Linked DNA regions of Homo sapiens: region 2 is linked to region 1. Evidence: fine-mapped expression QTL. Tissue or cell type: whole blood. Region 1 holds a variant in brackets; the other region holds the start of a gene. All regions are shown on one strand. Distances are between the middles of the regions.

Region 1 (2,852 bases):
CAGCCCTCAGGAGATCCTGAGAACATGTGCCAGGCCACAACTTGGTTTTATACATTTTAGGGAGACATAAGGCATCAATCAATACATGTAAGGTGTACATTGGCTAGGTCCAGAAAGGTGGGACAATTGGAAACAGGGAAGCGGGGCAGCTTCCAAGTCATAGGCAGATTCAAAGATTTTCTGATTGACAATTTGTTGAAAGAGTTATTATCAATAGAAAGGAATGTTTGGAGACATCCAATAGAAATTCAATAGACAATCATTAGAAAGGAATGTCTGGGTCGTGGAGACCAAGGTTTTATTATGCAGATGAAGCCTCCAAGTAGCAGGCTTCAGAGAGAATAGGTTGTAAATGTTTCTTAATACACTTAAAAAGAGCATGTTCTGGCTGGGTGCAGTGGCTCATGCCTGTAATCCCAGCACTTTGGGAGGCCAAGGTGGTTGGATCACCTGCTATCAGGAGTTCAAGACCAGCCTGACCAACATGGCGAAACCTCGTCTCTACTAAAAATACAAATATTAGCCGGGCATGGTGGTGGGTGCCTGTAATCCCAGCTACTCGGGAGGCTGAGGCAAGAGAATCACTTGAACCCAGGAGGCAGAGGTTGCAGTGAGACGCAATCATGCCACTGCATTCCAGCCTGGGCAACAGAGTAAGACTCTGTCTCAAAAAAAAACAAAAACAAAAACAAAAAAAGAGTGTGTTCTATTAGTAATTCCAAAAGGAAAAAGGATGTAATGAGGCATATCCAGCTTCCCCTTCACATCAGTTTTCAGGTTAACTTTGGAATGCCCTTGGCCAAAAGCAGGGGTCCAGTCACATGGTTGGTGAGTATGGCCTTAGAATTTAATTTTTTGGTTTACATTAGGAATGCTTCCACATTCTCTCAAACAAATTTTAGTCACAGTTTTGAATAACGTACTCTGGCTCAGCCATTGCAGGTCTCAAGCCGTTAGGTTTCATTTTCCTCCTCCCAACGATTTTAAATTAGTTTCACTTTCCAGTTTCCTCTTCCTTCCCCTAAAAGCAATTACTCAAAAACGGAGAAAACATCAGCTGATGCGTGCCCTACTCTCCCACCCCTTTATATAGTTCCTTCAGTATTTACTTGAGGCAGACAGGAAGACTTCTGAAGAACAAATCAGCCTGGTCACCAGCTTTTCG[G/C]AACAGCAGAGACACAGAGGGCAGTCATGAGGTCAGTGAAATAAGAATGCATAATCATGCTTGTTTTTGAGTGCAAATTGTAAGTTGAGTTTCTTACTGTGCAGGCACATTCCTGAATTGTCCTGATGTTTATAGATTCAATATGTCTTTATCAGTCTGAGCATTTGTAAGATGTTTGAGGGGTTTTTCCCTGTGGCTTTTTTTGGTGTACACACAGGCTTCTTAAGTTTCTGGAATGGTTCCCTACGGAACTACATGGGGGGAGGCAGGGTGGGGAATGCATCAGCTCATGTTTCCTCCCTGTGTGCAGCTATTTCCTGCAATGAGAGGAAGGCTTGGCAGGAGCGGTGTATTTCACTCAGCCACAAACTTGGCTGATTCAAGGGTAGACCTAAGGGAATTACTCTTTTGGGTTTTTCTGTTATTGTCATTTTGTTTGAAAAGATTAAGTCACAGGCTTTTTTTCTTGTAATTTTAAAAGGAGGAATTTATTTTCAACAGATATTGTGAAAGATACAATCAGTACTGCAAACCCACTCATGAAGAAGGCAATTTTGCCCTGAAACGTTGCATTACTTTAAGGTGGGAAGTGGAAGAAACAATTCTTACAAATGGGCATTTTTGTCATTTCTTATATAAAAACAAACCCAAAGCTTAGCATTTATTTTTATTGATGTAGTGAATGCTGGTCAGCAGCAAAAAAAGAATTTCTCCTCAAAAGTGTAATGACCTAATCTATTATCTAAAACTAGTCTAATCTCTAATGGTGGGAAGCAGATCAGTGGTTGCCTGGAGATGGTGGGGATTGAGTAGGAAGGCTCCCAAAAGAATCTTTTTAGAATCATAGGAATAGTCTATAGGGAGGTAGTGATGGTGGCTACATATGCATAAACATTTACCAAAACTCATCAGACTATACACTGAAAATGGGTGCATCTTATTGTATATAAAGCATAATCTCAGTAAACTTGATTTTTAAATTTATATATTGACCTCCTGGAGTTCTTCAGGGGATAGCATGTTAGGGAGAACTAAGAGAAAAGGATGCCTTTCCCACCAAGCATCTCTAGGAAAGGAGTGAGGAGGTGATTGCCAGGGAGGGAAGACCCCATCGACCATTCAGGGGGGCAGAAAAGGAAAACTGGATTCCCTACCTTACTCTGCCCCAAGGACTTGAAGATGCTCTGCAATGTCATGTTTGGGGATGAGATGGGTAAGAGGAATTCACTGCCAAATACCTCAGTATATAGAATACCCTTTTATATAGAATAAGTTCCTGGTCAAGAGTGATGTTAATTGTGTCTGTGTGAGTGGGATTGACCAGAGAGCAAGGCGTCTTAGTAGCCAGCTTGCAGGAAAGGTTTTACAGGGTCCTGTCTTTAGGTGTGTCTATAGCCACTGACCTGAGGAGGTCTGAGGGGGGCTCTCTGAACTATGCTGGACTCAGGTTCACATCAAGGTGCTCCTATTTCCAGAGGCTATAGGAACAGGAAGAGATTGGGCTGCTCCTCCCCAGTTGTGCTAAAAATTTCCAAATGGGAAAATCACCTGGAGAACTCACTGGCACGTGCCAGCTGATGGGCATCCTCCTCTGCCCCATCCACTGAGGAACTCTGTTGCTCCCTTTACACACTCACAAATTCACTTAAAATTATAACACAAATATATTAGTACCAGCAATCATGGT
Region 2 (2,665 bases), 26 kb before region 1:
TTTGGCAGGCCAAGGCGGGCAGATCACCTGAGATCAGGAGTTCGAGACCAGCCTGGCCAACATGGTGGAACCCCATCTCTACTAAAAATACAAAAATTAGCCGGGCGTGGTGGTGCGTGCCTGTAATCCCAGCTACTCGAGAGGCTGAGGCGAATCACTTGAACCAGGGAGGTGGAGGTTGCAGTAAGCCAGGATCTTTCCACTGCACTCCAGCCTGAAAAAAAGAGTTTCCCCTCTGATCACTTTGGTTAACGATTTTAGTTAATAATTATAATAGAAACTAGCATTTACTTATTACTGCCAGGCATTATTCTAAGGACATTTCACGTATTCTCTCATTTCATCCTCCCAACACCACAATAAACCAGTAGTTGTATTATTCCCAATTTACAAAACCGAAGCAGAGACATTCAATAATTTTCCCCAGAGTTTCATAGCATAAAGGTGGAAGCTGATTTCAAATCCAGATAGACAGACATCACTGCCCATGCTTCTAATCATGTATTCATTTAGTCAACAACTACTTTTGGAATGCTTGCCATACCATGCAATGTGCAGGTTGTTTTGCAGGGACTGGAGATTCAGCAATGATTCAGACTAAAATCCCCTGCCCTGTCGAGGCTAAATAACTGCTCCTTACAGTGGCCTGTGGATCATATTGGTATAAGGCAGAGCAAAGATGGGTTAATATGGTAATCACAAGGCAGGGAGCTTTGTAAATGTGTCCTCCTAGGAGTTGTGCTCCCTTGATGCCATCAGTACATTCCACAAAGAGGAAGTTCTTCTAACTCACTACGCAGCTGGGCTTGGCTCTTACTCAAGAGCATTTTGGGGTGAAAATATCTAAGTTTACCAGCCCTTGTGCAAATCTGAGATGAAGGACTACATTAAAAGTAAAATTCACCTTAGCAGGAAGTGGGGTTTGCTATTCTGTGTATATCTTTAACAGTATCTGCTGAAAAGAACCCTTTTGTTAAATAATTGTATTACAAGTCCCCAACTTAATCTTTTCGAATATGAAATAAGAGAGGGACAGTGCACAAGAGCAATGTCCCCAGACCCATCTTTAAGTGAAGCACCAGGCCGATGAAACATCCCTCTCTGCTGCCTTCTTTCTCTGATCACAACTCAGCTCCGGAGGAAAAAGAGTCCTCTAAAGTATAATAAAAAGAAAAAAAGAAAAAGAGTCCTGCCAATTTCACTTTCTAGTTTCACTTTCCCTTTTGTAACGTCAGCTGAAGGGAAACAAACAAAAAGGAACCAGAGGCCACTTGTATATATAGGTCTCTTCAGCATTTATTGGTGGCAGAAGAGGAAGATTTCTGAAGAGTGCAGCTGCCTGAACCGAGCCCTGCCGAACAGCTGAGAATTGCACTGCAACCATGAGGTAAATATTTTCCCTTCGTATTCGGTAGTGCTGTTGAGTCATCTTGTCCAATGCAAATCCTGAGAAGCTATGTTCCCAAAGAGGGCCAGCTCCATTTTAGTGTTTGTTTATAGCCTTACTATGCCTCTACCTCTGTTGGTTGTAAATCTGTCTTACCAATGGTGGTTTGTTCCCTCCTGAACAATTTTCTGCTTCACACTGGCAAGCTTCCTAAATTCATCTCCAGAACTGCACGCCTGGGGAGTTGAGTTGCAATCAGAGAAAGAAGGCAGCAGAGAGGGATGATGTTTCATCGGCCTGGTGCTTCACTTAAAGATGGGTCTGGGGGCATTGCTCTTGTGCACTGACCCTGTCTTATTTCATATTTGAAAGGATTAAGTTGGGGACTTGTAATACAATTATTTAACAAAAGGGTTCTTTTCAGCAGATACTGTTAAAGATATACACAGAATAGCAAACCCCACTTCCTGCAAAGGTGAATTTTACTTTTAATGTAGTTCTTCATCTCAGATTTGCACAAGGGCTGGTAAACTTAAATATTTTCACCCCAAAATGCCTCCTGAGTATGAATTAGAGATGGAGTGCTTGGAGAAAATAGTTCTGTTCTCACCTCTAACATTCCCTTCTATCCCCAAAACATGAGACTGCCCTGGAGAGGAAGTGTTAGCTCATTGAATAGGAAGGGAAATATTTTCTCCAGTTTGAAGGTGGGGTGGCCGGACCTGGTTGCCTAACCCTCATCCTGGGAGCTCTGGAATCCCGTGTTACCAACCCCTGTGCTTACTTCCTATGAGACACCTTGCCCTCTGTCTGTGAGGTTCCTGATTTCTCTTCTTGAAACGATATTATTTCCTGCTAGTCTAAATGTTCTGCCTGATTTCAAAAAAAAAAAAAAAGATTTGAGATATTTACAGATTTCTTTTTTTTGTAGTCACCCAGAATCTATAGAACCCTTTTCTTATTTCTTAGAATTTTAGCATGGTCTTATCTTAGAATTTTTCCCATTACAATACAGACCCATCTGTCCTTTCTTTCCTTAATTCTTTATCTATTGTGACTTTCACTGGGCATTGCCCTTGTGCCCTAAGACAGTGGTTCTCAAAATTGAGCATGCATAAAAATTGCCTGGACAGCTTATTAAGGACAGAGTCCTAGGGTTGACTCCCCAGAGATTCTCATTAAGTGGGTCTGGGTTAGAGTCTGAGGATGTGTGTTTCTAAAAGGCTCCTCAGTGATTCTGAGACTGCGGTGGTAGCATTAGTTCTGAGCCTGGTTGAT

The links. PIP is the estimated chance that this variant, and not a neighbour inherited with it, causes the effect.
Region 2: IFIT2 starts here. The variant in region 1 is fine-mapped to the expression of IFIT2 in whole blood (TOPMed, PIP above 0.99).

What each region holds. Positions count from the first base shown.
Region 1 is chr10:89,326,883-89,329,734 of GRCh38, forward strand. IFIT3 (interferon induced protein with tetratricopeptide repeats 3) reads left to right here and starts at 1,115. Exons shown (of 2, transcript NM_001549.6): 1 at 1,115-1,196. The coding sequence starts at 1,192. It also overlaps a transcript of LIPA not described here. RefSeq lists an enhancer at 883-1,122 and a silencer at 1,443-1,492. The variant G/C (reference allele first, on the strand shown) is at 1,166.
Region 2 is chr10:89,300,742-89,303,406 of GRCh38, forward strand. IFIT2 (interferon induced protein with tetratricopeptide repeats 2) reads left to right here and starts at 1,305. Exons shown (of 2, transcript NM_001547.5): 1 at 1,305-1,387. The coding sequence starts at 1,383. LOC105378419 (a long non-coding RNA gene) reads right to left here and starts at 1,162. Exons shown (of 3, transcript NR_188200.1): 1 at 545-1,162. It also overlaps a transcript of LIPA not described here. RefSeq lists an enhancer at 1,013-1,332.